Linked DNA regions of Homo sapiens. The protein of the gene in region 1 interacts with the protein of each later gene in a pairwise test. Each region holds a gene or a part of one and is shown in the gene's direction. Other genes may lie near its edges.

Evidence for each region.
Region 2: the proteins of SFXN5 (region 1) and STOM interact in binary tests that used the Homo sapiens proteins (3 or more experiments, as listed by UniProt).
Region 3: the proteins of SFXN5 (region 1) and APOL2 interact in binary tests that used the Homo sapiens proteins (3 or more experiments, as listed by UniProt).

What each region holds. Positions count from the first base shown.
Region 1 is NC_000002.12:72,956,592-72,960,241, reverse strand, and holds part of SFXN5 (sideroflexin-5), read left to right. Parts: intron 1-3,138; coding exon of another isoform or gene 3,139-3,262; intron 3,263-3,650. UniProt on the Homo sapiens protein: Mitochondrial amino-acid transporter. Transports citrate. Does not act as a serine transporter: not able to mediate transport of serine into mitochondria.
Region 2 is NC_000009.12:121,360,180-121,363,829, reverse strand, and holds part of STOM (stomatin), read left to right. Parts: intron 1-3,650. UniProt on the Homo sapiens protein: Regulates ion channel activity and transmembrane ion transport. Regulates ASIC2 and ASIC3 channel activity.
Region 3 is NC_000022.11:36,225,637-36,229,605, reverse strand, and holds the end of APOL2 (apolipoprotein L2), read left to right. Parts: intron 1-1,325; coding exon 1,326-2,202; 3' UTR 2,203-3,397; downstream 3,398-3,969.

The sequences.
Region 1 (3,650 bases):
TTGGATGGACACGCGGGGTTGAGGAGCCTGTGGGATGTTGGCTCTGGGTCTGGAATGAGGAGAGACGCCTGGGCTGGAGGGATAGAAGTAGAGCCTACCAGCATGACAACAGTGCTGGAATCGAGGGTGGTGGGTGAGGCCTCCACCCTGGCGGGGTCCAAAGACAAGCAGCCAGGGTGGTGAGGGCAGATCCGGGCCATGTGTGATCAGGGTGGGTGGGGGGCATCCACAGGGTCAGACCCTCCTGAGAGGTCACACTCCATGAGATTACAGAGTATCCATTAGTGTCTCAGGCAACGTAGCCAAACCCTGTCCCCAGAGAAGGGATCCAGGTGACAGGTGAGGGGAAAAAATGAGAAAGACAGGTCCACAGCCGCAACAAGATGTGGGATCAGGAGGGGCTTTTATTTATGTATTTGTCCTTGTTTTAAATGGGAGAGACAGGGGCTTGCGTAAATGCAGTAGAGAAGGCACCAGGAGAGATGTCGAGGACGCTGACAGGACGATTTTGGGAAAGTCTATGAAGAGGAGGGGGGACCAGAGCACAGACGAGGGGATCAGCCTTGGCACGGGGAGACCCCTCCCCACTTCAGTAGGTGGAAGAGGAGTGGGGTGGGAGGAAAATGCTGCTGGGGGTAGGGTTCAGGGGTAGGAAAATTGAAGAAGTTGTTCCAATGGCTCCTGTGTTCTTGTGACTGAGCAGACAGGAGAGAGTAGGGTGGGGAAGGGGCAGGAAGTCAGAGGTCTGAGGACACAGAGAAGGGGTGAGACATCCAGGGGAGAATGAGAGGTGAGGAGGCTGAGCAGCACGTGGTCTGGGAGTGCAGCCGGGCCTGTTCACCAGGAGGTGCTATGGGCCAGTACAGGGAGGGCCACAGATCCTTTCTTCTGGGGTTTTGTCAGGTTGGGGGTGAGGGGGGCTGAGAGATGGGTGACAGCACGGAGGAGCAGAGGACCACGGGATCCACGCTGGGTTGGAGTGAAGGTGGGAGCTAAGCTGAGGGGAAGGCACAGACCCAAGAGGGCCCAGGAGGTGTCTGCATTGAGCTCACAAGAAGGCGAGGGCTGTGGCCAGAAAGCGGCGCTTCTGAATCTGTGATTTCACCATGGACCTGCTTCAGGCAGGGCCCCAAGAGAGGTGGAGGAGAGGTGAGGGCTCCTGGAGACAAGTCGGGGAAGTGAAAACAAGAGGCCGGGGCTGTTGGGGCTGCGAGGGCTGGAGACCCAGGCTCTTAGAGCAGGAGGAGGGGGTGACCCGCCTTAGGCCCTGGAAGGTGAGAAATGGGGTGGCTTCCTTCCAGAGCCCCAGAGTTTGAGGAGGAGACTCTGTGGGAGTGGGGCTCCTGTCTTGGGGGACACCATTCAACGCACACCAAGATTAAAGCTAGCAGGACCTCATCTCATGCCCACAGCGGCCAGCCTTGTCATGGGTGCTGGGATGCTCCTTCCCCCACCTCTCACCCTGGGAAACCTGCAGCCTGGGACTCCAAATGGAGCCATGGGCTCTGGGTTGCCTAGTAGCCCTGAAGAGGGAAGGCGGGTATTTCTCAGTGGTCTCTGACATCCCTGTCCCAGCCCAGCACTCCCTGAAGCCATTGCATCTGTCTGTGCAATCAGCCTGAGCCCAGGGTCCTAGGCCAGGGCCAGAGTCACCCATGTGTTTATAGGTACCTCTGTGCTTCTAGTAGCTGTCATAACTCCACCTGCCTGCACAGAGAAGGGACCCAGGGCAAAGAAAATACTGATGCAGAATCAGAGACCCTCCCAGTTAGAAGGATTTTCAAGGTCATCCAGTTTACCTTGCTACTGACTTTGCTGGGGAAATGGTGGCCCAGAAAAGCCATGGGACCAGCCCAAGGTTGCAGAAGTCAGGTGCCGATAGGAGAGGAAACACCAGAGGTCCACACTCCAAGTCCAGGCCCCTAGGAAGTGCTACACCTGATCATTTCCTGTGGCTGAGTTTCTCTCCCTAGTCAACCACCTTACCTACCTTGGGACAGCCAAGAGAAGAGGGAGCTGGGGGCTGCACTGTGGTGGGTGGTAGGAAACGGTCTAGAAGAGCTGTAGGTCTTTGGCAGGTGTTCCTCTGGGGCATATAATGGGGAGATGCCTACCATTCACCCACCCAGGCCTCCAGCTCTGGCTGCAAAGCAATGATGGAAAGTGAGCCACCCTGGTCTCACAGCTGCTGCAGGTCAAAGCCCAGGCTCCCCTCTCCCCACATGCCTACTTCAAATAGACATGGGAGTTAGTTCTTCTGCATATTTAACCAAAGTCCCTCTTATTGCAATCCAAGCCTCTTTCTCTAGATTGGGAAGAAGATAGTCATTGCATGTTAAGTCTTTGTTCCTCTGGGAAGGGAGGGTACAGGCATGATTTTCAGAGCTCCCTCCTCAGCTATGTGGATCCCAACAAGATGCAGGCTAGCCTGGGCATTATGGGGTGTTTTGAGCCCTGTTTGGGACCCATGGCACCAAAGCCTTCAGCCAACTTGCCGAGAGGGCCTTGTTTCCGCATTCACTCTCCCAATTAATTCTCCCTAACAAGGTGCTTCTTCTGCCATACAGGGATCATGTCTCACATCCCAGAAGCCAGTGGGATTTGCCACAATAAGTCTGGACTTGCTTGGGCTGACCCAGCCTTGCCAAAAGCCACCAAGGTTGTCAACAGAAGTAATCACTGGAACACCAATTAACTAATCAGGGGACTCGGAGGTAGAATTTAGGAACTAGTTCCTAGAGTGGCTGGCCTGCAGTGATTGTTGTGGAGTTTCCAACTCACTAACCCCAGAGATTGAGGCAAGGACTTCAATCCTTCCTTCAGTTCCTGGGGGAGAGTTTTATCTGCTCTTTTCAAATTAGTAGTTCTGCTTATTAAAATGGTACTGAGGGTCAAACTGCAAATAATAATAATGGCTACCATTTGCCAGATATCTATTGGACCAGGCAGCATGCTGGGAGCTCGGTGTACCTTACTGTATTAAGTCTTCCTAATGCCCCTTAAGTCTAAAACATTGAACATCAAGAGATGATTCCTAGACAGTCAGATGGCTCTGGGGAGAGAGTTTGGCTGGAGATACGGAACCTTCAGTGTATGGGGGGGAGTTGAAGCTGAGAAAGGGGATGTGGTCCACTATAGGAGGAAGAAAAACCATCAAGAAGGGGAAGAAGCAGCCAAGGGCACAGGGAGAACCCAGATGGAGTAACTTCATGGAAGCTGAGGACTTGGGCGATTCAAAGAGGAGGGGCTGTCTCCAGAGTGGGTGAGTGCAGAGGGGACTAGGAGTGGAGGAGACTTAGGTGGCATAGCTAGACATGGCAGTCTAGGAGGCAACATGGTATTCAGTTTCTTCTTTGTTCAGATGATTGAGCTCAAAGATGGGGAACTGTGGGAGAACAGCAAAGAAACTGTGAGATGGAGGTTGGGGGGCTTGGAGAGAGGGCAATGATGGGGAAGGAATGCCCAGAGCCCAAGGCGGGAAGGCATGGCCTCTATGGAGTCCCTGGGTCCAGTGAGTAGAGGGGGCTACCTGGCTGTGGTGGAGAAATGGGGGCCTGGATCCTGAGAATTCTCCAAGGTAGGTATCAATATTCCTTGTTTACCAATGAGGAAACTGAGGCACATTAAGGTTAAGTACGTTGTCCAAGATC
Region 2 (3,650 bases), on another chromosome or scaffold:
TGAATAGCTGGAAGAAAGATCAAATGCATTATTTAATTTATGCAAGTCTTCCTCCTCAAATAAATAGTTGGCTGACATAAAACAGGAACAGCGTGTAACAGCCCATTGTCCAAATCTAGCTGACTCTGTTTCTGTATGTCCCACAAGTTATGAAATAGCTCTTATATTTTTAAATGATTTTAAAAAGGCAAAAGAATACTTTTTCATTACACATGAAAATTATGTGAAATTCAGATTTATGTCCATAAGTTTTATTGGAACAGCTGTGCTGTTTATGTAGGTACTATCTATGGCTTCTTTTGCACTGCAAAAGTAGAGTTGAGTAGTTGCAACAGACTGCAAAGCCCAAAATATTTAGTTCCTGGTTCTTTACAGGAAAAGTTTGCCAATCCTGACAAAGAATCACTGATGAAGAATCATAGTGGCCAAAAGTAACACTTAATCCTGAATACATATGTTTTTAAGAAGAAAGTTCAAAAATTGCCAAGACTTTTCAATTTGGCCTACTGTTACCCCTAAAAAGTGCTGCTGCAACTGAATAGCATGTGTTTTTGAGACTAAACTTCCAGCCTTTCTGTCTTGCCCCATCCAGGCAGGACTGCTCTCATCAATTTACAACATGAAGTGTTTTATTTGCACTCTGTGAAGGCAGAAGGAAAAAAGTGTCCGTTAAAAAGTGGCAGTTTAGGTATTTCAGTAATTCCTTAGCCCATCCTTTCTTATTGTGTAGGATAATGCTTATGACTCACAGTCAGATTCTCAGCAGAGGAAATCCAGTTATCTGTTGAACTTTACAATAATAAAATCTCAGTGATGAGTGGATTTATTACTCCACATGATTTCCAGTAGTGCTAAGGTTAATAGATCTGAAAGTAAATCAGCTGATGGGGAACGGGGACAACTACAGCCCTCTGGACTAATCAGCCTGTGTTGTCATCTTGGAAAGAATGTTTAACTGCCTTTCCAGAAACTTACCCAACAAAAATTACTACACAACAAATTTCATTTGTTTCATGGTTTGCTTGGTTTTCTTTTGTTTCTTCCTACAAGGTCTTTAGCCTTATTACTTTAGAACTTCAGGAGGCATATTTTAACACCTACTTCACAGATTTTTGTAAACATTATAAATACTCATGTATGTAAGGAGGAGCTACATGTGGCTAACATGTCATAGGAATTCATAAATGGTAGTTATTAGGAGTAGTAACAAAAGATACCTTCAGAATGAGAGAATTTTAAGAGTTGTATAATTTCATCTTTTCAGAAAAATTAACTTACACAGGAAATAAGCAGGTACAGAAACACTGCTAAATATATATTCAATGCAGCAGTTTCTAAGTGAGAAATTTGGACACAACAGATTTCATCATATAAAATGGAATTAATTAATTAATCTTTAATAATGATAAAGAATATGTGCTGATATGAAAAAATGTTCATAACATGGATGGGAGGGAGAAGATTTTAAATCACTGTGTATACCATTCTTTCATTATTGAAAAAATACAGGCTAGAAAAGGTTTAAAAGACGTATATCAAGGCAAAAAACATCCAGAGATAAAGTATAGATAATGTTTCTGTTTGTTGAGCTATCATTTCTAATTTTTATAGTAACTTTTGCTTTTAAAGTAAAAAAGCAATTTTAGAAAATGTATGTGAGTTTCCTGGAGGTAAGCCCAACTTGAATGTTCAATACAAAAATTCAAATGTACAGGCTTATGTCCATATTCAGACCCTTCTTTGATTAGTTAAAAGTTTATTCTACTGCCATTTTGGTAATAAAAGAAAAAAAAATACTCTAAACCAGGAGTCCCCAACTCCCAGGCCACAGACGGATCAGATCAGCAACATTAGATTCTCATAAGAGCACAAACCCTATTGTGAACTGCACATATGAGGGATCTAGGTTGTGTATTCCTTATGAGAACCTAATGTCTGATGATCTGTGGTGGAACAGTTTCATCCCAAAACCATGTTCCCCAACCCTTTCCTGTGGAAAAATTGTCTTCCACGAAACTGGTCCCTGGTGCCAAAAAGGTTGGGGACCATTGCTCTAAACTATGGCAAAGTAGTATTTACAACCAAGTATCATAGGATCCCTAATTTTTAGGAACATTCTCAACCAGCAAAATACCCACAAGTGGCCGGGTGCATTGGCTCACGCCTGTAATCCCAGCACTTTGGGAGGCCGAGGCCGGAGGATCACGAGGTCAGGAGATCAAGACCATCCTGGCTAACACGGTGAAACTCCGTCTCTACTAAAAATACAAAAAATTAGCCAGGCATGGTGGTGGGCACCTGTAGTCCCAGCTACTGGGGAGGCTGAGGCAAGAGAATGGCGTGAACCCAGGGGGCAGAGCTTGCAGTGAGCCGAGATCTCGCCACTGCACTCCAGCCTGGGCGACAGAGTGAGATTACATCTAAAAAAAAAAAAAAAAAAAAAAAAAAAGTCCACAAGTGTATTAACCAAAATATCACTATTTGTCCCTTTCCCCATAAAACTGGTAGGAAGGATTCAGTCCTAAAGTAATACATGGGAAACTTGAAGGAAATGAATTTCCTGAGATTTTAGTGAGTGAGAATTTCTTTTCTCTTATTCCCAGAAGTGGTAGATGACTAAGGGTTCATTTATAAGCCTGCTAGAGTTTAAGCCTCACCTCTGAGCTATGCATTTATAGCACAACATGCTATAAATAGACACAGCTGGAATTAAGAGGGCTTCCTCTGTAAAAACATCAGATTTCAGTCTCAGAACTCTAGTGATGCATTCCCAACTTAGATACTGTGTACCTTTTTGAGGGGTAACCAGGTGGGGAAGAATTTTGAGAGGTGAAGGTAGGATACTTTCATTTTAAAGTCATTAGAAAAATATGAAAGTGCCATTTTCCCAGTGTATACACTGATTATTTCTAGCCAAGCATTTGATATGTGAAAGACCAAATCCAGTTTTCAAAATGTGTACTTAATTCCTTGTTCCTGGTGATTTGCAATCCCATATACACATCTGGGGTTCTCAAAAACACAATGTGACATGGGAACTGACACAAAAAAAACTGGGCTGAACTTTTTGGCTTGTCCTCATGTAGATCATAAATGAACTTTTTGAGAGTCTTTGAATGTCCCAGCCTAGCCAGACTGGGGGCAGGTATGAAGCAAATGGCAAATTAAATTGTTTAAGAGGCTTTTGATCAAAAAGGGTAAATGCTATTTTCCCATTTTTCTTCATGAAGATACAAACACTTAAGTAAAATAGAAGGATTACAGAAAACTATCATCTACATTTACTGATCATTTTATCTGTATTCTACAAGGCCAGCCTAATAATCTTTACTTTCCACCGGTAAGGAAACTAAGGTTCAAAGAGGTAAAGATCATGCAACTAAGAAGTATCAGAAGTGAAATTCAAACATAGTTACTCCTCGTTCTCAGGGAATCTCAGTGTAATAAGGGATATAAATGCACAAGAAATTAAAATATTAGATTAAAAAATAATAAAAGATTAAAATCCTACATTGGAAGGTCAATTAAAAATAAATAAAAAATAAAAGATTAGACAAGATATAAGTGCCATAAGATAATTTTCAAAAAATGCTATCGAGATTCAAAGGAAAGAAAAAGACATATCTAGCTAGAAAACTTGCTGAGAAGTA
Region 3 (3,969 bases), on another chromosome or scaffold:
TGTGGTTTATCACAGGGAAAGAACACAGATTAAAATCAGCCTAAGGAAGAGACACACAGGGCAGAGTCTGGGAGGATTTCAGGTGTGAATCTTCATTGTCCTCAGGAGGCTGTGTTCTCCTGTGTGAATGTGGGACAAAACACATGCGGTGTTGCCAACCAGGGAAGCTCACCCAGTTAAGGAAAAATTCCTGTGAATCACATTAAACCAGAAATGAAGCCTTTATTCAGGATTGTTGTTACAGGGGAGGGAGACTGAGCCCAGCTCCAAATATAGTAAAGACAGAGGGGGAGTCACAGCCAACACCAGGGTGGGGGCGGGAGATGGAACAGGACTGACAGGAGACGCCAGAGTGGGGGGTTCCTGCTAAACTGGCCTAACAGGATTCTCGCCAAAGGCAGGTCAGACCCTCAACCACCAGTGGTGGGGGTGAGGAGCATGATCAGATAACAAACGGTGCTCAGACAGCAAGCGGGGAGGACCCTCCCTAAACTGATTTGGGGAGATTCTTGCTGAGCCAAGGTGGTGCAAGTCCAGAAAGCAGTGGGTGAGTGTGGAAGGCCAAGGTCGGCGCCTAGTGGAGAAGAAGCTCTGAAGAGCCCAGCTGGAGTTGGTCAAGGAGAAAGTCCTTCTTTCTCAACCCATGCCTTAGTGTCCAGAGTATCTGCTGGGGCTGGATCACAAGCTGCCCTCATGGCTAGAGTCTCCAGCCCTTCCCTGAGATCTCACACCTTTAGTCCCCAAGTCCTCTGGAAGTCAGGAAAGACACCAAATAGCCCCAAACCCTATCATCCATCACATCGCTATACTGTCCCGTGGCCAAATCACCAGGCAAAGAAAGATGTTCCTACCAGGCAGGACATTCCAGGGGCCTGGAGATCACTTCCCAGGAGCTGAGGACAAAGGGAAGGCCTCTCTTTGGGTAAAGTTCATGCTTCACTTTCCTGCCATCCTGGTAATAAGGTCTCTTTGTCTCACTCTCACTGCTCTTTGTTCATCTGCAGAGTTTTCCCTCTCCAAACACTTTGGCAGTCACGGTGTTGACCTGCCCTTGAGTGAGGAGGCATCTTTATCAAACACCTACCATGAAAGAGCATCTGAGGTGCCTTTAAGATATTTATTTCCATATGGAATAAGTACTGAGGAATATCTATGATGAACAAAATGTGTTTGAGTTTGAAAGATAATTAATTCCATTTGTAAAATTTGTTTCTATTTGATTGATAGTGAAAGCTCTGCAATTTACACAGGATAGAGATCGCATGGAGCTCATTTCACAGATAGGGAAACTGCATTTCTTAATCCTTTAACCTTTCCTTGTGCAGGGATGAGGCAGATGAGCTCCGTAAAGCTCTGAACAAGCTTGCAAGTCACATGGTCATGAAGGACAAAAACCGCCACGATAAAGACCAGCAGCACAGGCAGTGGTTTTTGAAAGAGTTTCCTCGGTTGAAAAGGGAGCTTGAGGATCACATAAGGAAGCTCCGTGCCCTTGCAGAGGAGGTTGAGCAGGTCCACAGAGGCACCACCATTGCCAATGTGGTGTCCAACTCTGTTGGCACTACCTCTGGCATCCTGACCCTCCTCGGCCTGGGTCTGGCACCCTTCACAGAAGGAATCAGTTTTGTGCTCTTGGACACTGGCATGGGTCTGGGAGCAGCAGCTGCTGTGGCTGGGATTACCTGCAGTGTGGTAGAACTAGTAAACAAATTGCGGGCACGAGCCCAAGCCCGCAACTTGGACCAAAGCGGCACCAATGTAGCAAAGGTGATGAAGGAGTTTGTGGGTGGGAACACACCCAATGTTCTTACCTTAGTTGACAATTGGTACCAAGTCACACAAGGGATTGGGAGGAACATCCGTGCCATCAGACGAGCCAGAGCCAACCCTCAGTTAGGAGCGTATGCCCCACCCCCGCATGTCATTGGGCGAATCTCAGCTGAAGGCGGTGAACAGGTTGAGAGGGTTGTTGAAGGCCCCGCCCAGGCAATGAGCAGAGGAACCATGATCGTGGGTGCAGCCACTGGAGGCATCTTGCTTCTGCTGGATGTGGTCAGCCTTGCATATGAGTCAAAGCACTTGCTTGAGGGGGCAAAGTCAGAGTCAGCTGAGGAGCTGAAGAAGCGGGCTCAGGAGCTGGAGGGGAAGCTCAACTTTCTCACCAAGATCCATGAGATGCTGCAGCCAGGCCAAGACCAATGACCCCAGAGCAGTGCAGCCACCAGGGCAGAAATGCCGGGCACAGGCCAGGACAAAATGCAGACTTTTTTTTTTTTTTTTTTTTTTTTTTGAGATGGAGTCTCGCTCTATCGCCCAGGATGGAGTGCAGTGGCTCAATCTCGGCTCACTGCAAACTCCGCCTCCCGGGTTCACACCATTCTCCGGCCTCAGTCTCCCGAGTAGCTGGGACTACAGGCACCTGCCACCACGCCCGGCTAATTTTTTTGTATTTTCACTGGAGACGGGGTTTCACTGTGTTAGCCACGATGGTCTCCATCTCCTGACCTCGTGATCTGCCCACCTCGGCCTCCCAAAGTGCTGGGATTACAGGCGTGAGCCACCGCGCCTGGCCAAAATGCAGACATTTTATTAGGGGGATAAGGAGGGCAAGGTAAAGCTTATGGAACTGAGTGTTAGTGACTTTGGCATTTGTGTAGCTGAGCACAGCAAGGGAGGGGTTAATGCAGATGGCAAGTGCACCAAGGAGAAGGCAGGAACACTGGAGCCTGCAATAAGGGAGGAGAGAGGACTGGAGAGTGTGGGGAATGGGAAGAAGTAGTTTACTTTGGACTAAAGAATATATTGGGCGAAGAATAGAGGGGGAGCTTGCAGGAACCAGCAATGAGAAGGCCAGGAAAAGAAAGAGCTGAAAATGGAGAAAACCAGAGTTAGAACTGTTGGATACAGGAGAAGAAACAGCAGCTCCACTACCGACCCCCCCCCAGGTTTGATGTCCTTCCAAGAATAAAGTCTTTCCCTGGTGATGGTCTCTCGCTCTGTCTTTCCAGCATCCACTCTCCCTTGTCCTTCTGGGGGTGTATCACAGTCAGCCAGTGGCTTCTTCATGATGGTGGTTGGGGTGGTTGTCATGTGACGGGTCCCCTCCAGGTTACTAAAGGGTGCATGTCCCCTGCTTGAACCCTGAGAGGCAGGTGGTAGGCCATGGCCACAATCCCCAGCTGAGGAGCAGGTGTCCCTGAGAACCCAAACTTCCCAGAGAGTATCTGAGAACCAACCAATGAAAACAGTCCCATCGCTCTTAGCCGGTAAGTAAACAGTCAGAAGATTAGCATGAAAGCAGTTTAGCATTGGGAGGAAGCACAGATCTCTAGAGCTGTCCTGTCGCTGCCCAGGATTGACCTGTGTGTAAGTCCCAATAAACTCACCTACTCACCAAGCTGGACTTGTTCGAGTCATTCTTTGGTCTCTCAGCTCCTTCTAAGCTTTGGGGGCCATCAGTCTCAAGTTTTTCTCGTAATGGTGGTGATGGTGGTTGTGATGGCAGCAGAGTGGTGGGGGCCTTGGCAAGTGGTCGGTGCTCTTCCAGACCAGGGGACACCGATGGACCGATGAAGTTCCAGGGGAACTTGAAGTGCTGTGTTGGAAAGAGGTTAATTTGGGAAGAAAGGAAAAATGAAAGGAGATGCCAGGAACAGGTCAAGGAAGCTTGAGGTGTGTCCAGGAGTTCAACCCTGCTTGTGGTCATGAGACTTCACCCCTCTGAGCCTCAGTTTCCTCATCAGCTGTAGAAGGGGGCTGGAAAAGGTGATATCTCAGGTCCACCTTGCTCTCCCCATCTTGTGTTCTGGAGACTTGAGTCAATCAGCACTGACTGATGGCTGTGACTTTGTGGTGCCGATGGAGGCTCCCCTGGGCTCTGGGTGCCTGACTTAACCTTCCTCATGATCCTTCTTCCAGGGTCTCAGGGAGCGAAGTTTCAAGACCCCTTCTGCTCGCTCACTGGACTCT